3 separate regions of the Homo sapiens genome follow, and all the other regions are linked to region 3. The links come from fine-mapping of genetic effects on gene expression. A gene starts in region 3. Each other region holds a variant in brackets. All regions are shown on one strand. Distances are from middle to middle.

Region 1 (8,183 bases), 27 kb after region 3:
ATTGCTCTTCTGTTTGCCTGGCAAGTGAGAAGAATAGAAGAAACACCTCCACTAATAAGCCAAGGTCCAAAAGGCTTTCAAACCACTGTGGTCTCTGACTTTTCACCTTCATATTCTATTTAGAAAAGAAAATGCATGCACACTTGAAAGTTTCTTCCAAATTTATCTGTTGCTATTTTGAGGCCTTATCTACCTCCACTTAGTTGATTATATTTAATCATGACCATCAGCCAAACAAGATTTTAAAAGTTTTTGTCAATGCCTGAAAACATTTTTGCAAGATAAGTTAAAAAACAAATATATGAAATAAGACTAAGCAGAAAACCTTTCCCCTACCTTTTCCTCCCAGGCTTCCCCAAATATAAATGACCATGAAGTCACCATAGAAGCGGATACTTATTTGCCTGTGGATGAAACCCTGATTCCTACAGGTTGGTGAATTTAACCTTTTTGTGTTATGTGGGATCATGGATTGGCTCTCGAGGCCAAGAAAGGACATTAGTGGAGAAAGCGGTGAAATCTTAATAAAGTCTACAGTTTAGTTAATAGAATTATTCTAGTGGTAATTTCTTAGTTTTGATATGTGTACTGTGTTTATGTAAAATGTTAGCATGAGGGAAAGCTGGGACAGAGATGCAGTATTTTTACCACTTTTCTGTAAGTCTAAAATTATTTCAAAATTTCAAAAATTTTTAAAAAATGGTGAGTAAGATAATACTTTACTGGGGCTGGGCGCGGTGGCTCACGCCTGTAATCCCAGCACTTTGAGAGGCCAAGGCGGTTGGATCACTTGAGGCCAGGAGTTTGAGATCAGCCTGAGCAACATGGTGAGACCCCGTCTTATTTTTTTTTAAGATTAAAAAAAAATTTTTTTAATGCAAAAGAAACTAAAGTTAAAAAAAATTTTAAATAACTTTACTGGATACTCATCTTACACTAGGTAACAGCTTTTGTTTTAGCTGGCTTTTTTGGGAGGGGGGCGGTGCGGGAGGGGATAGGGTCTCATTCTGTTGCCCAGGCTGGAGTACAGTGGCACAATCTCAGCTCACTGCTGCCTAGACCTCCTCCCCAGGCTCAGATGATTCTCCCATCTCCACTTCCTGAGTAGCTGGGACCACAGGCACACACCACCACGCCTGTTGTATTTTTAGTAGAGACAGTGTTTTACCACGTTGCCCAGGCTGGTCTCAAACTCCTGGACTCAAGCAATCTGCCCGCCTCAGCCTCTCAGAGGGCTGGGATTACAGGTGTAAGCCACTGCGCCCGGCCACTTTGGCCTCTTTAATGGGTTGAGTTTATGGCTGCTAGTTCAAACTTTTTATGAGGAAGAAAGGTAAGCATGTGAGCCTGCATACCCAACAGCAACTTCAGGTAACAGCAGGCATTAGGAACTCCCATAAATATAGTGACTACAAAACTAATTGGAATAATAATGAAAAATTGAGCTCAATGGGGTCAAATTTTTGGCATCACAGTTTTTGAATATTTTCCTGGCTCCAGGGCTGAGTTTAAAGGCTTTTCTGTTTGTCTTGGTAGCATGTGTCATCTTGTGATATTTACATGACTCAATAGAAGGGCATGAGTAAGCTGGCCCATCTGGTCCTAGAGGCAGAATTACTGCAGTAGAACTATATGTTGTGAACTGCAAGGAAAAAATAGTGGTGGCTGCTGTTTTGTGACTGATAAGGAAGAAAGTGAATCAATTAGCTTATAAGTGGAGGTTATGAAATAAGTGCATATTTATTTGTGTATATTTATAAAATCTTCTCATGCTATCCGGTTGAGTTGATCAGATGAAAATCACAACAGGGCATAATTTGTGCATTTAAAGGCCTGTAAAGGCCAAGTTATTTTACTTGATTGTAAAAAATCATTGTGGCAAAGCACAGTAGGCTTAACATGCACTCTAATGGACTGCATAAAACTTGCGTTCGCTGGGTATGGTGGCTCACACCTGTAATCCCAGCACTTTGGGAGGCTGAGGCAGAGGAGGATCACTTGAGCCCAGGAGTTCGAGACCAGACTGTGCAACACAGTGAGATCCCATCTCAACAAAAAATTGAAAAAAAAAATAGCCAGGTGTGGTAACACGCACCTGGGGTCCCAGCTACTCAAGAGGCTGAAGCAGGAGGATCTCTCGAGCCCAGGAGTTGGAGGCTGCAGTGAGCCGTGATCTCTGCTGCACTCTACCCTGGGCAACAGAGCAAGACCCTATCTCAAAAAAAAACCTAATTGGGAATATATGTGTTATATTTCAGTAGTTTTTTTTTTTTTTTAAAAAAGACCAAACTACCATTTATAATCACCATCTTTTCATGAAAGAATATTTTAGTACCATAAAAGTGTAAACAAATTTAATCTCAGAATAAGGAACAACTCTTTATGTTGAATTTATGTAGCTTTTTAAAAAATAATATGGTACCACTTGGAGCCAATACTATAAAAAAAATAAATAGCAGATTATCCAAACGTATCTCAGTTTTCTGGGGACCAGTGAAAATGTTATCACTAACTCATAATTCAGAACTAGTAATTGATCTGTAAGGCCACTTCTCTCTCTTGCATTCTCCAATTCTACGAGGCTCCTAGCATGACATTTTACTGCTATTTCCACAACTCTTCAAATCCTTTAGAGCTCTATCATTGAAGTAAATAAGTTGCTGCAACTTCAGAGCTCATGAAAAATTTGTAATTCTCTCCTACCTATCCATACTTGAGTCAGACCTACATGTTATACCTGTTTGCCGAGTGACACTTAAGCAGAAATTGTAGTATTGTTTTCTCTTTTCTCAGAAGTCCTTAAGAAACAAGCTAATTGTCTGATTCCTTTGAAACTTCCTCCAAAAATGGGTGGTAGTAACTGCTACCCTGCACTTTAGGAATGTAAGAATTCACATGTCTGGCCCACTTTCCACTGAGAACAAATCTCTAGGAGCCCAGATTTTCTCTCTTTTTTTCTTTCTGTTTTGTAGAGACAGGGTCTCCCTATGTTGCCTAGGCTGGTCTTGAATCCCTAGGCTCAAGCAATCCTCCCACCTGGGCCTCCCAAAGTGCTGGGATTACAGGTGTGAGCCACCATGCTGGTCCTCATCTGACTCTTAACACTGATCAAAAGCCCATGAGCTTAATTTTGAAAGAAATCCAAAAGGCTTGCCCATCATTTGATCACTCAGAAGTGCTGCTGGGCTCTCTAGGAGTTGGCAGTCTATGGGAAGGGTCAGCCAGAATTGTGTCCATTAATCTGGAAAATATCAGGATAGACATAACTAGGAGACTTGGCACAGAGGGCAGGCACTGCTGAGGGGGCTTCCAGATAGAGGAAATGAGAGTTAAATAAAACCTGGAAGGGAAAGTGGAAGTTTGCCAGGGAGTGAGGAGGAGAAAGGTGTTCCAGATAAAGATGAACAAGCGTGGGCGGTGCAAGAAATAGCAGGACTAGCCCAGGGAAGTGCTGTGCTTTTGAAGCAAAGCATTTGGGGCATAATTTTAGTGGCAGAGAGTGGATGGGCCTGGAGAGGTTGATTGGGGCCATGTCAGATCTGTACCAGGCTCTGTGGAACTGCAATCCCTAGGGTGGCCCTGGGTGGCCCCAGGCTGGCCTGGAGCTCAAGGCCGATCCACATAGCTGACTCACAGGTGTGCCTGAGTCCAGTCTCAAACTTCAGCGTGTTCTGCCAGAGCTGGACTGAACCACAAGGCCACTTTCCTGAGACGTGCTACAAGAACC[T/C]GTTAGACCAGGTCGGGTGCAGTGGCTAATGCCTGTAATCCCAGCAATTTGGGAGGCCGAGGTGGGCAAATTACTTGAGATCAGGAGTTCGAGACCAGCCTGGCTAACATGGTGAAACCCTGTCTCTACTAAAAATTCAAAAATTAGCTGGGTGTGATGGTAGGCGCCTGTAATCCCAGTTACTTGGGAGGCTGAGGCAGGAGAATCGCTTGAACCCAGAAGGCAGAGGTTGCAGTGAGCCCAGATCACGCCACTTTACTCCAGCCTGGGAAACAGAGCGAGACTCTGCTTCCAAAAAAAAAAAAAAAAGAGAGAGAGAAAATAACCTGTTAGACCAGCCATACTCCATTAAGACTTCTCAAAATAAATATGCACTATCTACCGACTGTGGTTTTGTTGAATTGAGAAAAAGAAGATACTGATTATCTGTGAGATAAGGTGAAGCTTTATGATAATAATAGCTAGTATTTCAGGGAGGACTTTATAAATAATTCATACCACAAGCCTGTAAGGTAGGTTCTGTTCATTTTTCTTATTTAACAGATGTGAAAACTATAGAACAAGGAGTTAAAGTACCTTACAGAGGATGACCCAGTTAACAAGTTGGGGAAAGCCGGGATTCACACCAAGGTAGTCTGGTATTAGAACTCAGGCTCTTAAGTAGACCTGCACTCTACAGATCTTACAATGTGGTTAGATGTCAAGAAGGTTTGGTGCCAGGCACAGTGGCTCACACCTTTAATCCCAGCACTTTGGGAGACCAAAGATTGGTTGAGCCCAGGAGTTCAAGAGCAGCCTGGGCAACATAGGGAGACCCTGTTAATACAAAACATTTTTTTGAATTAGCCAGGAGTGTTGGTGCATGCCTGTGGTCCCAGCTATTTGGGAGGCTGAGGTAAGACAATTGCTTGAGCCCAGGAGGTCAAGGCTGCAGTGAGCTGTGATTGTGCCACTGCACTTCAATGTGGGTGAAGAGCAAGACCCTGTCTCAAAAAAAAAGAAGAAGATTTGGGAGGTAGGGGAGAGGCAGAAAGGAGTGAGGAAAGAAAGAAAAGAAAAGTAAATTAATTTCTTTACTATATAAATACCCAAGTGCAACATATAGTCAATAAATGAGAAGTAAGCCAAAACAAAGAACAGACTTTTGCCAGCTGTCAATCCTCAGCTCTTTTGCCACCTTTTGTACAGGGAGCCTCCCCAGTCCTCTCACTGTCTCCTCCTTGTTCCTTCCTCCCTTCAATTTATTTCTACTTTTCTGCAAAGAAAACAGGAAACCAAGTTTGTTTAAATTAAATATAAGAAAGGGAGAGAGAGAAAGAGGAAGGAAGGAAAGGAAAAAGGGAAGGAGGGAGAGGTTTTCTTGAAATTAAAGAGCATGAATTTAAGTGTCTGGCCTTGTCAGTCTGACAAGAAAGGGAAAGTCAGGCTGGGCGCAGTGGCTCAAGCCTGTAATCCCAGCACTCTGGGAGGCCGAGGCGGATGGATCACGAGGTCAGGAGATCGAGACCATCATGGCTAACATGGTAAAACCCCGTCTCTACTAAAAATACAAAAAAATTAGCCAGGCGTGGTGGCAGGCGCCTATAGTCCCAGCTACTCGGCAGGCTGAGGCAGGAGAATGGCGTGAACCCGGGAGGTGGAGGTTGCAGTGAGCCAAGATCGGGCCACTACACTCCAGCCTGGGCAACAGAGCAAGACTCCGTCTCAAAAAAAAAAAAAAAACAAAAAAAGAAAGGGAAAGTCAAGGGAAAGTCACCTCAGGTGTCATTGTTCTGTTGCAGCATATGGTGTTCCTGACAGATCCCTTGTCTTTCTGGTTCTTGGTTTTCTCATATGCAGAATCTTGTTATGAACAAGTTGTGTTGAAAGTTCACATTCTTTAAGTATGTATGTTGGTCATCTCTGTTGAAAATGATAGAAAAATCACCTTCGGTAGAAAATTTACAAACAGGCCGGGTGCAGTGTCTCATGCTTGTAATCCCAGCACTTCAGGAGGTGGAGGCGGTTGGATTTTTGAGCCCAAGACTTTGAGACCAGCCTTGGCAACACAGTGAAACCCCATCTCTACCAAAAATACAAAAATTAGCCAATCTCACAGCCCAGTCTCAAAATAAATAAATTAAATAAATAAATAAATAAAGTTTCAAAAAAAGAAAGCAAACTTACAGACACAGTTAAAGAAAAGCTGTACCATTTACAGGGTGGCGTTCAGCTATCTGGAGCAGTCCCTTATGGTGGGTACTTCATTTATCCTGGGGAGATGCTGGATAATGAGTTCGTTTTAGACCCTTTGCTCTACCTGGCTTTTCCTGGGGTGGCTGCTTGGTTGTGCTGAAACCCTCAGAAATCAACAGTAGAAAACTTCTCTAAAACAGCTTTGGCCTTTTTGCATATGAATGACTTTTACTGCGTAAATCAGTTATTTTGCTTACCATCCTAGTCCTCTGCTTTCCACCCCAAATCCTTGTTTATGTGTGTGTGGTTTTGTTTGTTTGCTTGTTTGTTTGCTTGTTTGTTTTTTGAGACGGAGTCTCACTCTGTTGCCCAGGCTGGAGTGCAGTGGCTCGATCTCAGCTCTCTGCAGCAACCTCCACCTCCCGGGTTCAAGTGCTTCTCCTGCCTCTGCCTCCTGAGTAGCTGGGACTACAGGCGCGCATGCCACCATACCCGGATAATTTTTGTATTTTTAGTAGAAATGGGGTTTCACCATGTTGACCAGGCTGATCTTGAACTCCTGACCTCAAGTGATCCACCCGCCTTAGCCTCCCGAAGTGCTGGGATTACAGGTGTGAGCCACCACACCCCGCCTGCGTGTTTGTTTTTTAAATCTCTCTTCTTAGGGTCATGAGATTTCTCATTAATTTCACTTAGAGCTCCTGGAGAGAAAAGCCTCTATTATTGTCACTATAACAGTAAAAAAAGTGTAGAGATTTTTTTTTTTCTTTTGAGACAGAGTTTCGCTCTTGTTGCCCAGGCTGGAGTGCAATGGCGTGATCTCAGCTCACTGCAACCTCCACCTCCCGGGTTCAAGCGATTCTCCTGCCTTGGCCTCCCAAGTAGCTGGGATTACAGGCATGTGCCACCACACCTGGCTAATTTTGTATTTTTAGTAGAGATGGGGTTTCACCATGTTGGTCAGGCTGGTCTTGAACTCCTGACCTCAGGTGATCCACCTGCCTTAGCCTCCCAAAGTGCTGGGATCACAGGCATGAGCCACTGTGTCCAGCTTTTCTTTTTCTTTTCTTTTTTTTTTTTTTTTTGAGACAGGGTCTCTTTCTGTTGCCCAAGCTGAAACAGTGACACAATCATAGCTCACTGTAACATCAAACTTCTGGGGCTCAAGCAATCCTCCTGGCTCCGCCTTCCAAATAGCTAGGATTACAGGTGCACATCACCATACCCAGGTAATTTTTTCTTTTTTTACACGAAAATGTCTCAACATGGATTTTTTTTTCTTTTTTGGCAGAGATGATGTCTCACTATGTTGCCCAGGCTGGTCTCAAACTCCCTGCCTCAAGCCATCCTTCCACTTTAGCATCCCAAAGTGCTAGGATTACAGGCGTGAGCCACCGCACCTACCCCCAAGAAAGCTTTTTTTTTTTTTTTTTTTTTTTTTTGAGACAGAGTCTTGCTCTGTCAACCAGGCTGGAGTGCAGTGGCGCGATCTCAGCTCACTGTAACCTCTGCCTCCCATGTTCAAGCAATCCTCCCGCCTCAGCCTCCCGAGTAACTAGAATTACAGGCACATGCCACCACGCCCGGCTAATTTTTGTATTTTTAGTAGAGAGGGGGTTTCACCATGTTGGCCAGGATGGTCTCGAACTCCTGACCTCAAGTGATCCACCTGCTGTGGCCTCCCAAAGTGCTGGGATTATGGGCATGAGCCACTGCACCCGGCCCCCAAGAACTCTTCAAATGCACCTAGTGTCACAAGAAAAGATAGTTAAACTGTGTCTGAAAAAGTGGCTTATGTGGGGAAATTTGTGATGGATTTAGGGAAACTTAGGGTAAATTTTAAACATAAGGCCTTTTGTCAGATCACCTACATTCCTCGGATTGTGCGTGGGTTTGTCGCAGGTGCTTGATGTGACAAATTACACAGCTTCTATTGCTTCATTTGATCAGCCGCCTGTTGACTTTCAGCCAAGTCCTGCAGGGTTGCTTCTCAGATTGTATCTTTCTGCAAGACAAAGATGTTTTCATAGTCTCTCTTTAACTTCTCCCTTTTGTGGCTATTAATTTATACTTATATGTTTTTCAACTCCTTATTTTTGTTTTCTCTTTATAAAAGTTTTAACGTGTGCTATTCTTGAGGGAAATACTGATGCATATCTAAACTTTAGGGGTGTTTTTCACCCTGGCTACAGACACTCGGTAAATAATTTTTCAGGTGATGGGAAAACACATCATCATGAGAATGTAGCAACTTTTATTTTGCAGTAACTGTTAAAATTGT
Region 2 (8,183 bases), 520 kb before region 3:
CCCACTGAGATGTCTGCTGGGTGGGAGGAGGCTTATTGCCAGAGAACAGTCTGGTGTTTTCTGTTCCTGCTTCAGGAAGTCCCCCTTCTCCCGCCACCCCCGCAGCTCCTCAGCCTGGAAACAACTTTTAGAGAGGAGAAGGGAAGCAAAGCTTTCAAAAGCAGATACCTGTGGGGTTTGAAGGGAGGTGCCCCTTGTTCAAGTATTTCTCCCCCAAAATTGAAAGGACACTTCAGATTCATTCATTTTAGTTTTGATGTATCTTCAGTAATTAAGAAGCCACTAAGAAAACTGACCCTGGGAAGGCAAATTCCTGAAGCTGAGTCAGATACAGCCAGCTCTTACCATACCATCTGACCCTCAGTTCCCTCTGACCTCATCTCTTCCCACCTCCTCTCTGTCTGACTCAGCAGTGAGGCCACACAGGCCTCCCTGCTGATTCGAGAATGGCTCCCACCTGAGGCCTTGGGCCCCCCTTGTTTTCGCCCCCACATACCCATCTGGCTTCCCCTTCACTGCTTCCAAGGCTCTCCTCAGAGAGCATCCTGTCAGACCAGTCTTTCCTGGACATGCTGAGTGTACCTTTCCCCTATTTCATTTTCCTTCGTGGCACCTTTTACCACCTGATATGTTCAATGGCTCTATGTTTGTTTGTAGTAAGTCTCGCCTGACTAGAATATAAGACCCATGGGAGAAGAGACTTTCTGCTCTACCCTTGGCACATACCGGGTGCTCAAAAAATATTCAAGTGCTCGCTTCGGCAGTACATGTACTAAAACTGGAACAATACAGAGAACATTAGCACGGCCCCTTCACAAGGATGACACACAAATTTATGCAGCATTCCATAATTTCGAGAAATACAAATCAAAACCACAATGAGATAACATCTCACACCAGTCAGAATGGCTATTATTAAAAAGACAGAAAATAAGAGTTGCTGGTGAGGCTGCAGAGGAAAGGGGAAAGCTTATATGCTCTTAATGGAAACACAAACTAGTTGAGCCACTGTGGAAGACAGTTTGGAGATTTCTCAAGGAACTCAAAATAGAACAACCATTAGACCCAGCAATCCCACTACTGAGTATATACCCAAAGGAAAGTAATTCATCCTATCTTAAAGACACATATGCTCCTATGTTCACTGCAGCACCATTCACAATAGCAAGGACATGGAATCAACCTAAGAGCCCATCAACAGTGGATTGGAGAGAGAAAATGAGGTACAAATACACCATGGAATACTATGCAGCCATAAAAAAGAATGAAATCATGTCCTTTCGCAACATGGATGGAGGTGGAAGGCATTATGACCTCCATAAATGACCTAATGTAAGAACCTAAAACAAAATATTGCATGTTATCACTTGTAAGTGGGGCCTAAACGTTGAAGACACATGATCACGAAGATGGGAACAATAGGCACTGGGGATCACTAGATGGGGAAGGAAGGGAGCAGGGGGCATGGGCTGGAGTGCCACCTGTTGCGTCCTATACTTATTCCCTGGGTGATGGGATCATTGGGATCCCAAGCCTCAGGGTGATGCAATTTACCCATGTAATAAACCTGCATGTGTACCCTTTAATCTATGATAAAAGTTGAAATTAAAACATAAACAAATAAAATCCTGAGTACTGTTTCAAAAAATATATTTGAGGAAAGAAGGAAGGAAAGAGGGATGGAGAGATGGAGGAAGACTAAAGGAAGGATCGTGGCCCTGAGAGAATAGAGCACAGGCCAGGGGTGAGATACAGAGTGAGATGGGAGCTGAATGGGGTCTCTGAAACTAGACATGGAAGACACCAAAAGAAACATTCCTACTTCATCTTTCCCTGTGCCTGGGATAATTTACTCCTGGATGGTAAAGATATGTCTTGGTTTCATCTGTGTTAAATAAACCTGCACGATGTTACAAGCTGGCATTGCTTCATAAGCTTGACCTTAGCTTTCAAATAGGACCTCGATCATTGCTCAATGACCAAGTCACAAAGTTGCCTAATGATATTGGCCCACAGCCATGTTATTGCAAACATGGCAATGACTGGCCAAAACCAGGTGTGCTCCTTACATTTCTGCCCGGGTGATACTCTCAGAGAGCTCCTCGCCATGAGAACTAAGTCAGTCTCCCAGTGCCAGGAGCCAGGACAATTACGGGGCTTTCCCTATTGTGTGTTCTTGCTGCTAACCAGCTCCCAGGCCTAGGCTTCTGAGAAACAGTGTAGGCACACAAGCTGCAGATCTCTCCTCCCTTTATTCTCTCTCCCCTTCCCCAAACCCACAATAGCCTCTACCATAGTGCTTATTCTTTTGACCTGTTCTGATCTGCTAGCCTAACTATTCCCCAACACCTTTAGGAAGATAGGTCTTCCCTGACCCTCAGTCTGAGGTCTAGAAGCCCTTCTGCCTTGCCTCACAGGCATCTTCCCTCCTCCCCCGTCCCCTAGACCAGTCCAACAGCAGCCCGTGCAGCCTCTGAAGTCCACTCCCAGTGCTAGCTGATGGGAACCCCATGGGCTCCTGTCTGCTATACAAATGGAACAGACTTTCTTCAGAGCCAACCCCAGCTGCCCCACTGAAGCTGGTTGCCACAGTGATTTTCAGTCTCATACCAGATTCTGATCTCTTCTCTTGCCCACCTTTGGTGCTGCAGAGTGGATCATCTTGTTTTATACTCAAGTCATCATTAAAATTTATAGAAAAAGAGAGAATTTAAAAAAAAAAACACTAAAAAATCACCTTGTACGCATATACCTCAGAAGATCTTTGGCCTAATGGTAATCTGTGACATTAAGGCAAATAACCAAAAATATGTAATTTTTCTATTTATTTCTTTGAGTGGGCTCAGTTGCAGATATATGAATCTGACCAGGGTCCTGATCACTTCCTGCTCCCAAAGACCACCCTTTGAGCCTGTAAGATCCAAAGTCAACTCAGTGGATTAATGTGCAAGTCTAGCCTGAGCCAGTAAGACATGGTTCCCTCTAAGATGCCAGGAAAGGACCTAGGGCTTCCCTGGGCTGAGCTCTTAGGTAAGCCATGGCCTGGCCTGGCCTCTTAGAGGTTGTGCAAGACCAGCCTCTGTGATCTGCGAAGGCCCTGAGTCCCAGACATCGTCTCCAACACTGACCTAGATCCAGTGCCAGCAGGACAAGAAAGTCCCCTCTGCTTTAACCTTTACATGAAAAGAAACTTTGAAATGACCAATCCACATTTTTTTTGTTTGTTTTTTTCTGCTTTCCACAGCCCTTTTCTGTCTGTAAAACCAACCTCCTCTTCTTGGCTCATCAGAACACTCATTCTATTTTATGGAATAAAGTGCTGCCCAATTGTAGAATCAAAAATACAGCAAATTAATGTTTTTTATATAAAGTTTTTGATACATAATAATTACACATATTTATGGGGTATCTGTGATATCTTGACACAGCCATAGAATGTGTAATGATCAAATCAGGGTATTTAGGATATCCATCGCCTTGAACATGTATCATTTCTTTGAGCTAGGAACATTTCAAATTTTCTCTTCTGGCTATTTTGAGATACTCAATATGTTTTTGTTAACTATAGTCACCCTACTTTGAGGCTGAATACTAGCGCTTATTCCGTCTAACTATATGTCTGTACCTATTAACCAACCTCTCTTCATCCCACACACCCTTCATAGCCTCTAGTAGCTACCATTCTTTTCTCTACCTCCATGAGATCCATCTTTTTAGCTCCCACATATGAGTAAGAATATGCAATATTTGTCTTTCGGTGCCTGGCTGATTTTACTTAACAAGATGCCCTTCAATTCCATACATGTTCCTGCAAATGATAGAATTTCATTCTTTTTTACGGCTTAATAGTATTCCATTGTGTGTGTGTGTGTGTGTGTGTGTGTGTGTGTGTATCACATTTGCTTTATCCATTCATCTGTTGATGGACACTTAGATTGATACTGTATCTTGGCTATTGTGAATAGTGCTGCAATAAACATGGGAGTGCAGGTCTCCCTTTGATATATTGATTTTTTTTCCTTTGGATAAATACCCAGCAGTGGGATTTCTGGATCACATGGTAGTTCTATTTTTAATTTTTTGAGAAACTTCCATAGTGTTTTCTATAATGGCTATACTGATAAATGAATTTAACAAGGTTGCAGAATACAAAATCAACATACATAATCAATAGCATTTCTATATACCAATAATTAACTTGCTGAAGAAGAAATCAAGAAAGTAATCCCATTTAAAATAGCTATAAAAAATTAATTGTCTAGGAATAAATTTAATCAAATTTAATAAATTCTTTCCGATGAAAGAAATTGAAGAAGACACAAACAAATAGACGTTCCATGCTCATGAATTGGAAGAATTAATATTGTTAAAATGACCATACTACCCAAAGTAATCTACAGATTCAATCTCTTATCAAAATACCAATAACATTCTTCACAGAAATAGAAAAATAATCCTGAAGTTTATATGGAACTACAAAACACCCCAAATAGCCAAGCAATACTGAGTAGAAAGAACAAAGTGGTAGGCATTACACAATCTGACTTCAAAATATACTATATTTGGTTACATATAGTAACCAAAATGGCATGATATTTAGTATAAAAAGACATATAGACCAGTGAAACAGAATAGAGAACCCAGAAATAAATCCACGTATTTATAGCAAACTATTTTCAACAAAGGTGCCAAGAACATACACTGGGGAAAAAATACTCTCTTCAATATACGGTGTTGGAAAAACTGGATATCCATATCCGGAAGAATGAAATTGGATCCCTATTTCTCACCATATACAAAAATCAACACAACATGGATTAAAGAC[G/A]TAAATGTAAGATCTGAAACTATAACACTACTAGAGGAAAACACAGGAGAAATGCTTCAGGACATTGATCTAGGCAAAGATTTTATGGCTAAGACCTCAAAAACACAGGCAGCAATTAAGATCTTTAAACCAAATTTGTTGTAATTTTGTCTTATGACACTAGCAACACAAGTGAATTTAGAACCATTTGTCTGGTCACTTACCGTAGAATTAACCACCTTCAAAACATGTAACGACTTTACCACTTAAACCCTTACCATTTTGTTATGGTCAGGGATACTGTGGGCCAGGTATTCAATAAGGACACAGTAGAAATGGCTTGTCTCTGTTCCACAATGTCTTGGACCTTAGCTGGAAAGAAGCAAAGGCCAATGGTTACTTGATGGCCGGGAGCAAATATCATCTCAAGGCTCCCTTCCTCACAGGTCTGGTTCCTATGCTAATAGGACTCAAAGACGAGGATAGGTGACTCATTACCTACCCATGGCCTCTATACATGGGTTGGTGTTTTCACAACATGGTGGCCTAGGTATTCAGACTCAAGGCTCCAAGAACTAGTGTTCTAGAAAACTAAGAGGAAGCTGCGTCACTTTTTATGATTGAGCCTCAGAAGTCAAGCAGTATCACTTTCCCTACTCTACTGTTTGAACAATTACAAGCCCACTCAGATTCAAGTGGACTCCACGTCTTGATGAGGGGGAACTAAGGTCACAACGTAGAAGAGCACAGACGATAGGAGACACTGGCCATCTTTGGAAAATACAATTTGCCACTCATCATGTGTTAATGCACAGATGAGGAAGTGCTATCTGCTCTTCTCCCCTCCTCAGCTCACCCTGACTTCTGTGTTTCCAGTCCTGATTATTTATAACACATGTTCAATATAACAAGGATGTTTTGAAGCCCAAAGGAGTGAATCCTTTCCTAGCCTTTCAAACCAAGATAAGGAAAAAGTGGAAGAAGACATTAAGACATGCAGCTCTAAGGAACTATCCAAATTACACTAGGTAGATGCCCTGCAGATGTTTAACTTCAAGATTTCCAGAGGCCACGTGTGTGTCAGTATCAGAGAATCAAGTTTACATTCTCAATAAGTAGATGTTGAGAATATACAGCTGATCCCCACTATTTGAAGATTTTTGCATTTGTAAATTTGCCTACTGACTAAAATTTATTTGTAACCCCCAAATCAGTATTCAGAGTTTTTGCAGGCATTTGTAGGCATGCACCAAGTGGCAAAATATTGAGTTACCTTATGTGCACGTCAACAGACGAAGGTGAACAAGGCAATACTCTGCCCTCTTGTTTCCATTCTCATACTGTAAACAAGTGACCTTCTGTGGTCAACCTAGTGCCTTATTTTTCAAACTTTTGTGGTTTTGTTAGCAATTTCACTCTCTAAAAATGACCCTCAAGTCTAGTATTCCTAAAAACAATAAGGCTGTGATGTGCCTTACAGAGAAAATACATGTGTTAGATACACCTTGCTCAGGCATGAGTTAAAGTGCTGTTGGCTGTGAGCTCAGTGCTGATGAATCAACAATATATATTAAGTAAGGCATCTTTAATCAGAAACACACATAAAGTAAGGTTATCTATTGATCAGTTGGCAAAAATGTAACTAGAGGCTCACTGGAACCTAAACCTGCATTTCCCTTAGGAGCAGTGGTTCAATATTTGCTAATTCATTGTTTGCAGTGACTTTATAGAGCATAACTTATATTACAAATAATGAGAATCAACTGTACCGTAGATCAGGACTTTTATAAGCCCTGGAGATACAACAGTGACCAAGCAGACCAAAATCCCTGCTGTCATAGAGTTTATATTCTAGAGGAGAGGGGAAAACATAAATGAAATAAATAAATAAAAGATATGTATGTTAGAAGGTGATAAGTGCTATGGGAAAAAATAAAGCAAGTGATGGGAGGTGGGAGTGGGCATTCAAGGTGGCCTTTTTTGTTGTTGTTACTATTGTTTTCTGTTTCTTTACCAAAAAAAATGGCCAGGGTGGACCTCAATAACAATCAGATAACAGTTGAGACAGCTGGTGAAAGAGATGAGGAAGAACACTAAGCGATTTCCCGGAAGACAGCAGAAAGAACAACCAGTACACAGGCTGAGGATGTAAACAAACCCGCCATGTTGTGGAAACCAGGAGGAGGCTCATGTGCCCAAAATGCAGTCAGTAGGAGATAAGGTCAGAGAAGTAAGAAGGTGTCAACTCAATAGGGCCTGGCAGCCCATTGTAATGACTGGGGCTTTCACACTGAGTGAAAGATGGTAAGCATCCAAGGGAGAAACAGGAGAGCAATTAAAAGAGTGGCAAAAATCTAGACTTGGAGAGTAATTACCACCGATTATAAGAAGTGGTCAGGTTCCAGATGTCTTCAAAGGCAGAGCCAACAGGATTTGCCGGTGGATTGCACGTGTAATTGTGAAAGAAATGATGATGTCAAACATGACTCCAAAGTTTTTGGCCTGAGAAGCTGGAAGTTGCCATTCTAAGACAGAAAAGACTGTAGATCAAGCAGGTTCTGGAGGGGATTTCAATTCTACTCATTTTAAGGTGAGATGTCTACTTAATATCCAAGTGGAAAAATAAGGTAGGCAACTGGATATACAGGGCTGGAATTCAAAGAAGTCCAAACTGGTAATATACATTTTGAGTCCTCAGCATAAAGATGGAATTTAGAGACATGTAACTGAATGAGACCACCAAGGAATCGGTGTAGGAAGAGAAGAGGTTGAAGAATGGAATCCTGAGGCATTCCAGTGTCAAAAGAAGAAATTGAGAAAAGCAGATTGAGAAATGTGGCCTCCTGGAAGCTGGATGAAGAGAGTCTTCCTAGAAAGAGTGAATGATTGTTATGTCAGCATGCCCAGAAGTGGGGTAGGATGAGGACTGGGAAGAGAGAAAGTCCTGATTTGTAGAGTTTGCCAATTTCCATGGCGAAAATACTCCCACCAGAGTTGATTTCAAGCTGTTAATGTGATGTCATTGAATGCAGAGTTTAGAAGAGATGCACACAATTGGCTCTCAGGAGATATTGCAAACTGATCTCAGCAGACATTGCAAGCTGATCTCAGCACACCCCTGACAGCTAATGATATCCATTGCCTCAGCAGGCTTTGGCATCCAAGAGGGAACTAACTGCCCAAGCAAGTCTGAACGTGGCATGGCTGAATCTCTGTCATCTGGACAGGGCCAAGCAACATTTATCTTCAATATGGTAGGCTGGCAACTTTCTCAGAGGGCAGCCCAAGCTGGGCTGGGCAAGAGGGGCTCAGAAAAGGATGTCATGGTCCTTGCAGCCAGACTCATGCTAACTTTTAGCAGAGTGCATTTCAGTAATGA
Region 3 (8,183 bases):
TCGAGACCAGCCTGACCAATATGGTGAAACCCTGTCTCTACTAAAAATACAAAAATTAGCAGGGCATGGTGGCATGCACCTGTTAGTCCCAGCTACCCAGGAGGCTGAGACAAGAGAATTGCTTGAACCCGGGAGGCGGAGGTTGCAGTGGGCCGAGATCACGCCACTGCACTCCAGCCTGGGCAACAGAGTGAGACTCCCTCTCAAAAAACAAACAAACAAAAAACACACAAAAAAACCAGACCTTATTCTTCACCTGGCCACCCTGACACCTCCCCTTCTAGTTAGAGGAAATGCTATCTACTTCAAGTAATTCTCCTTTTTTTTTTTTGAGACAGAGTCTCTCTCTGTTGCCCAGGCTGGAATGCAGTGGTGTGATCTTGGCTCACTGGAAGCTCCGCCTCCCAGGTTCACACCATTCTCCTGCCTCAGCCTCCCGAGTAGCTGGGACTACAGGTGCCCGCCACCATGCCCAGCTAATTTTTTGTATTTTTAGTAGAGACGGGGTTTCACCATGTTAGCCAAGATGGTCTCAATCTTCTGACCTTGTGATCCGCCTGCCTCGGCCTCCCAAAGTGCTGGGATTACAGGCATGAGCCACCGCGCCTGGCCAGTAATTTTCCTTTTACATAAATGCCATAATCCCTTTTCCCTTTACCTTATAATCTCATCCTCAGGCCCTTACCCCAAAATAAAAATAAATACCTCCTGAAATTTGACAGTGCTTCATTTTCTAGATTACTACCTTGCATCTGACTTCCCTGCAGATGGAGAATTGCCCCTAGATTTAGGGGTTTTGTTTGTTTGTTTTTAAGTGCACAGATATTCCTTTAGAGTTTCACTGTGGGATAAAAATAGGATATTAGGGTGAGAAAAATCAAGGTTTGTGCCTGACAGTTGATTCAAGCACAAGGTAATGCTATTTGCGACAATATGTTAGTTAAACCCTTCAAAGGAAAATGAAATCAAGAAGTGTACTCCTTACATTTTTTTTTTTGAGACAGAGTCTCACTCTGTCACCCAGGCTGGAGGCAGTGGTGCAACGTCAGCTCACTGCAACTTCCGCCTCCCTGGTTCAAGCAACTCTCCTGTCTCAGCCTCCAGAGTAGCTGGGACTACAGGCACATACCACCATGCCTGGCTAGTTTTTTTTTATTTTTATTTTTAGTAGAGATGGCGTTTCACCATATTGATCAAGCTGGTCTCGAACTCCTGACCTCAGGTGATCCACCCGCTTCTGCCTCCCAAAGTGCTGGGATTACAGGCATGAGCCACCGCGCCCAGGCCTCTTTACATTTTAGGGAGACATCATGGTACATTCATTTTCTACCAAATGGAGTAAAAAGAGCTTCCGTAGAGACATTTAGCATTGGGCAGGCAAATACATTTATTTCCTTCTGTAACAGCATGTGCTTGGCAGAACACTGAGAACTGGAGGTTGAGAAAAAAAAAAGTGGTCTTCCTGCTCACTTTTCTAAGACATCCTTGCTAACACAGCATTGCCAAAGGGCTTGCGTGTGAATCACCACAAAGTTAAGTGGCTGATGAAACTGAGAGTTTATGAGAATTTCTGATGAAGCAGCACATAGGAGTGCCTGTCGGTTATTGTATGAGTGTGATGCAGTCTATAATTTGACTTGTTTGGGTCTTTTTATTATTATACGTTGAGCTTCACTGAAGCCTGTTGCAAGCTTTTTTATTTTTCCTTTGCTATCAGAATTCTTCTGCTTCATGATGGAGAATTGAGGCTTTATGGCAAGAATGCTAAATATACCTTAAATTACAGACAGAAGAAGCTGAGAGATAGTTATTATGTTTTATTAGCATCTGATTCCAGGCACATAATCCCAATTCTCATAATTTCCTAATCAAAGATGCATTTCATTTCTGCACTCACCCCAGTCTAGTTGGATACCCTCTGAAGTACCCAGGAACCAAGCCAAGAGCAGTATCAAGAAAAGATAGATGATTATGCAGATGGCTTGAGTAAAACTTGTCTTTAGGCTCCCAGCATCCTCCCACTTCCTAGGCTCAGTACTCCTCTAAAGTTGCCAGACTTAGCAAGGAAGTACATAGGTGCCTGTATGTTATCTCATTAAGGCCCTTAATAGCTTTATCTTAATCCTTCTGCCATCAGAGCCTATTTTTTTGGGGAAAAAAATTCAGATTACTCATCAAGCCTTAGAGCAATATTTCTCTAAATCTGGTCCCAGATAATCTGCAGAAGAATAACTTGGGAACATGAAAAATGCAGATTCCTGAGTTTCACCCTAGACTTCCAGAATTAGAAATTCCAGAGGTGGGGACTGGGAATATGCATTTTAAATGTCCTCAGCAAATTCTGAGACACAATCAAGCAAGACAATTATTTAATAACCTTAGTGTCTTTCCTCTCCAACTGTACATACCTGAAGACTCCATCCTACTTGTAGAAAAGGAGATAACAAAGGTTCAGTACCTGGCATTTACAAGGACCTCAATCAATACTTGTTCCCTGAATCCCTTCTTAAAGGAACTGTGGACTTCAGGAGCCAGAAGACACCAGAGGTCCCTTTCCAGTCCCTTGAAGTAAAATAAGTCTGAGGCTGTCTCTAATCACCTCCGCACACCGAGGGCCTAATCCATCTACCTGACCCTGTCTGGTCCAAGCTCCTCGAGGCTGGCACAGCTTTGGCCGTCAGGAGAGCCTTCTGGGCAGTGGCTCTAACAGAACCATGTCCAGGACTTCATCCGTGGGACAAAAAGAGTGAATCTTCAGTAAGTCTGTGTGCAGAGAAGCCTGAGATGATTTACCTCATTTCTAAGCTACTACTGTACTTTGTTGTTGTTGTTGTTGTTGTTTTGAGACGGAGTCTCGCTCTGTCACTCAGGCTGGAGTGCAGTGGCGTGATCTCGGCTCACTGCAAGCTCCGCCTCACGGGTTCACGCCATTCTCCTGCCTCAGCCTCCCGAGTAGCTGGGACTACAGGCCCCCACCACCACTCCCAGCTAATTTTTTTTTTTTTTTTTTTTTTTTTTTTTTTTTGTATTTTTAGTAGAGGCGGGGTTTCACCGTGTTAGCCAGGAAGGTCTCAATCTCCTGACCTCGTGATCCGCCTGCCTCGGTCTCCCAAAGTGCTGGGATTACAGGCGTGAGCCACCGAGCCGGCCAACTACTGCTGTACTTCTTACCCCCTGTATCAAAGAGTTAAAATCTAATTTTTTCCCAAGATCGGTCTCACTGTAAGTCTGCTATCTGTATTTTCCCATTCTTCGTCTGATAGCCACCGACATTAATGACCAGCTCATTACATGTTGAGGTGTGGGGAGATGGGGGTAGAACCCCGTCAACCCAGGATTCGAGTTTAGAAAGACTACAAGCCCCAAAATGCAATTTCACCTCCCAAAAACTACCATTCCCAACATGCAATGCAACCAGGACGAGCCAAGGAAAAAAAGTACAAGTGTGGCTGCAAAGTTTGCCCCTCTTGTTACCCTCAGGCAAATGATTGATTTAGAAAGGCCCCAGGGGCTATTTTTTGCAGGAACGGTCACTCCCTAAATCCAGGCAGGGAAAGGGAGGAGTCTGAGCCGAGTCACGCCCCTTCTCCTGTAAACTTGGGTCGCCTCTAGCTTAGCGAGCGCTGGAGTTTGAAGAGCGGGCAGTGGCTGCACACGCCAAACTTTCCCTATGGCTTCGGTGACCAGGGCCGTGTTTGGAGAGCTGCCCTCGGGAGGAGGGACAGTGGAGAAGTTCCAGCTGCAGTCAGACCTCTTGAGAGTGGACATCATCTCCTGGGGCTGCACGATCACAGCCCTAGAGGTCAAAGACAGGCAGGGGAGAGCCTCGGACGTGGTGCTTGGCTTCGCCGAGTTGGAAGGTGGGTTGAACTGTGCCCTGGGCTGCGAGCAGGCCCCAGGCCCACGCTACATACCTCCCGGATCTAGCGGGCCACTTGCAATGCGAGGGACCAAGGGGGAAAGTCGCCTAGCTTGGGACCGTCTGACTTGCAAGCGCATGCATCATAGAGGGCCGTGTGGCCATCCAGCATTTGGGAAAAACTGTAATAAATAAACTATGGCAGTTGGCCTCTGGTTATCCGTTCAGGCTTTGCCCCAGTTAACGTAAAAGGTCAGCTGATGGTATGATACACTTCAGCGATCCTGGAGCGATCTTTGAACTGCCTAATCTTTGAACTGCCTGATACCTGGAGAAGGCTGGAGAGGAAAGAGCAGGCAAGAGGGGGTGTGGCTCCCACTTCTTCCCTTCTGAAGAAGGAAATTCAAATACTTGCCTCTTCTACTTCCTTCTTCCTTGATCAGATTCTCTTTGAGGCCTGGTTGTCTCAGAAATGCTCCACTAAGCTCAGTGGTTGCCTAGTACACCAGCTACCCAATAACCATTTAGGAACAAAATAGAGAAGACCAACTCAGTGTCTTCTCAGAGATCAGGTCTCCTACCAACTAGGATGGACTTTTATCCCAGAATCCATGGGCAATTAGGATCAGGCATTAATTAATACATTTGACAACTCTATTAATCCGATGACCTCATTAAACAGGACAGACAAGGTCCCCACTCTTGCGGTTTGGCTGGGGAGATAGACTTTAACTCAGTAATTGCATAAATAAAGAATGACAATTGCAGCTTGATTGCAGCAAAGGAAAATGTACATCATGCTCTCTTAGCACCATGGTGTAACTAGACAGAAAATGAGGTGTGAAATAAAGCTGGCAAAGGGAAACTGAGAGTTAATACTCTCTGCTCAGTGGTTGGGGCGTAGACAAATTCTGCTGGAGAGGAGGTTTGAGGTTTTCCTTTTGGTGTGTCATTCTGTCTGTTTGGTTCTTCCGATACGTAAGATATGTAACTTGGCTCATGGTTACATGTTGGCCAGACCAGCCTGGCCAGCATGGTGAAACCCTGTCTCTACTAAAAATACAAAAAAATTAGCTGAGCATGGTGGCACGTGCCTGTAATCCCAGCTAGTCAGGAGGCTGAGGCAGGAGAATAGCTTGAACCCAGGAGGCGGAGGTTGCAGTGAGCCAAGATTGCGCCACTGCACTCCAGCGTGGGTGGCAGAGCGAAACTCTATCTTAAAAAACAGAGAGCAAATTTCAATTCCTCAGGGAAAAAAACAAAACTCAGCTTTCTGTTGAACACCACCATGCCCGGCTAATTTTTTTGTGTTTTTGGTAGAGATGGGGTTTCACCATGTTGGCCAGGCTGCTGGCGGGCACCTGTAATCCCAGCTACTTGGGAGGCTGAGGCAGGAGAATCACTTGAATCTGGGAGGCGGAAGTTGCAGTGAGCCGAGATTGCGCCACTGCACTCCAGCCTGGGCGACAGAGTGAGACCCCATCTCAAAAAAATAAAAATATACTCTAACCTTTCCCTCTGCCTTTCTGTGTAACAGCTGACCATAAAGAAATTAAGACCCTCATTCCAGAGGGGTCCTGCCCCATACCCGGAGGAAGAAATGCTGCATGGGGAGGCCAAGAAAAATCTGAACACAGGCCTTGCCGAGTTTCCCCACTCACTCTATTAGCAACAGATCTTACCCTTTTGGTCCAATCATATTTCTACATGGCTGTCCATGTTCCATTGGACCTAAGCATAGAAATGGATTGTTTTCCTTGTATCTGTCGGTCTTCATTCTGAAAGCTCCCGTGTCACATAAAACTATAATCAAATAAATTTGTTTGGCTTTTTTATGTATTTTTTATTTTTTAGAGGTGGAGTCTCGCTCTGTCACCCAGGCTAGAGTGGAGTAGTGCAATTATAGCTGACTTGCAGCCTCGAACTACTGGCCTCAAGCAATCCTCCCACTTCAGCCTCCCAAAGTGCTGGGATTACAGACATGAGCCACTGTGCCCAGCTGTTTTGCTTTTCTCTTGTTACCCTGTGTTTGTTGTAGAGGTGTGGGCTGTGACTCTTACAGGGGAGATATACAACACTCTGTTACTATTTTGATGGTGCTCTGATACTACATTTCTAGTGCATTAAAACCTATGTTAACAATAAACTGGTAACAGTGGTTGTTAAGAAAGGATCCTGGGTGCCCAGGGTGCAGAGGATGGGAAGGAGACTTAATTTTCACTGCATATTCTTTTAAACCATCAGAGTATGTAAGTATATATAAACAAACAGAGGTAAATAATTTAAAGTAATAAGACTTGACAGAGGCCGGCATGGTGGCTCACACCTGTAATCCTAGGAGTCCAAAGTGGGAGGATCGCTTGAGGCCAGGAGTTTGAGACCAGCCTGAGCAACATAGTGAGACCCTGTCTCTAAAATAAATAAAAATAAATAAATAAATAAATAAATTTAAATTTAAAAAAAATTTTTTTAAATACTTGACAGAATAAGGGGTTATCTTGACATTACCATATCCCAAAAATGGTTTTGAGCCATGCGGAAGATCTGAGCGTGGATAATTCCATGAGACATGGTCCTTTTGTAACTGCAGAGTTAGATATGAACAATCTTCAATTTCCCAGACAGGTTATATAAACTGTTTGGATGACAGCCATAACCAGAGGTCAGAATGGTTCAGTTTCTCCCTGGGAAAATGGGATTTTTTTCTTTCATAGAATTCTAAAGAAGAAAATTATATAAATTTTTAGTTACAGTAAGAGAGGAGACCACCCCTCATATTGCCTTATGCCCAATTTCTGCCTCCAAAGAAAGAAGTAAAAACTAAAAGGCAGAAACGAAATCCACAGGCAGACAGCCCGGCACTACGCCATGGGCCTGGTAGTTAAAGATCGACCCCTGACCTAACCAGTTATGTTATCTATAGATTCCAGACATTTTATAGAAAAGCAGTGTGAAAATCCCTGTCCTGTTGTGTTCTGTTCTGATTACCGGTGCATGCAGCCCCCAGTCAGGTACCCCTGGCTTGCTCAATCGATCACGACCCTCTCACGCAGACCCCCTTAGAGTCGTAAGCCCTTAAAAGGGACGGGAATTGCTCACGCGGTGAGCTCGGCTTTTGAGACGCAAGTCTGCCTTCTTCAATCCGGTGTCTAAGGAGTTTTGTCTGCGGCTCGTCCTGCTACAACAGCCTAGAAAAATCAGTAATGCCTCCTATGAGTTTTTCAACCTTTTTTTGTATTTAAAAATGTTTTTTGCCGGGCACGGTGGCTCACGCCTGTAATCCCAGCACTCTGGGTGGGTGGATCACAAGGTCAAGAGACAGTGACCATCCTGGCCGACATGGTGAAACCCATCTCTACTAAAAATACAAAAATTAGCTGGGCATGGTGGCGCATGCCTGTAATCCCAGCTATTCAGGAGGCTGAGGCAGGAGAATCACTTAAACCTGGGTGGTGGAGGTTGCAGTGAGCCGAGATTGTGCTACTGCACTCCAGCCTGGTGACAAAGCAAGACTTCATCTCAAAAGAAGAAAAAAAAAGTTTTTCTTTTTTTTTTTTTTTTTAGTGCAGTGGCGCTATCTCGGCTCACTGCAGCCTCCACCTCCTGGGTTCAAGCGATTCTCATGCCTTAACCTCCCAAGTAGCTGGAATTACAGGTGGGCACCACCACACCCGGCTAATTTTTGTATTTTTAGTAGAGACGGGGTTTCACCATATTGGTCAGGGCTGGTCTCAAACTCCTGACCTCAAGTGATCCACCTACCTCAGCCTCCTAAAGTGCTGGGATTACAGGTGTGAGCCACCACGCCCAGCCTAAAAATATTTTTCATCGGCATGTCCCACCTACAGTCATTATGATTTCTTTCAAAGCCTGTGCTGAAAATATTTGCTTATAAGCCACAGGTATAAACAACCTACCCATACAATCATTGAAACGCCTTCCTTTTCATGTTTCCCCCAGTTGCCACCAAAGACCTGGCTATTAACTGCCATGAGAGGCATTAAGGAAAAAATAGAAAAAGTAAATTTAGTGCCTTTAGAAAACCTGGGTTCAGAAGCAGGGATGAGGAAAAAAAAGGATCAGGTTAGAGGCTGCAGTTTATTGTCGCTCACGCCCAGGAGCACCCTGGTGGGAGCATTGAAAATTCCTGGTTTAAAGTTCTGCTTCCTTCCTTAAAGCTGTGCGACCCCGGGCAATTTACTTAAACTCTCCAGACCTATTTTCTCACGTGAAACAAATGGATTGTGATGATTTAATGAGCCATGGGCTGTGATATGTGTCTAACCATATCTGACCACATATTTGATACGTCTCTGATCAGAGG

Which allele goes with the higher level. Positions count from the first base shown, and alleles are read on the strand shown. Sizes are in standard deviations (SD) of each study's normalised expression. Not every link is listed here.
With allele G in place of A in region 2, the expression in aorta of the gene that starts at base 3,623 in region 3 is higher (moderate effect, 0.64 SD a copy in GTEx).

What was found. PIP is the estimated chance that this variant, and not a neighbour inherited with it, causes the effect.
Region 1: its variant is fine-mapped to the expression of GALM in pancreas (GTEx, PIP above 0.99).
Region 2: its variant is fine-mapped to the expression of GALM in aorta (GTEx, PIP 0.98).

Annotation. Positions count from the first base shown.
Region 1 is chr2:38,689,464-38,697,646 of GRCh38, forward strand. GALM (galactose mutarotase) reads left to right here. Exons shown (of 7, transcript NM_138801.3): 4 at 350-431. LOC124905993 (a long non-coding RNA gene) reads right to left here. Exons shown (of 3, transcript XR_007086292.1): 2 at 7,774-7,907. Among named protein-coding and RNA genes, the nearest start is that of GALM, 27 kb to the left of the region's middle. RefSeq lists a silencer at 3,264-3,558. The variant T/C (reference allele first, on the strand shown) is at 3,728.
Region 2 is chr2:38,146,667-38,154,849 of GRCh38, forward strand. All of the region lies in intron 2 of CYP1B1-AS1 (CYP1B1 antisense RNA 1), which reads left to right. LOC107985871 (a long non-coding RNA gene) reads right to left here and starts at 3,500. Exons shown (of 4, transcript XR_007086290.1): 1 at 169-3,500. It also overlaps the pseudogene RNU6-951P. RefSeq lists enhancers at 1-981, 36-85, 116-215, 287-1,095, 296-475 and 1 more. The variant G/A (reference allele first, on the strand shown) is at 4,826.
Region 3 is chr2:38,662,492-38,670,674 of GRCh38, forward strand. It overlaps GALM (galactose mutarotase), which reads left to right and starts at 3,623. Exons shown (of 7, transcript NM_138801.3): 1 at 3,623-3,860. The coding sequence starts at 3,671. RefSeq lists enhancers at 3,375-3,887, 3,888-4,400.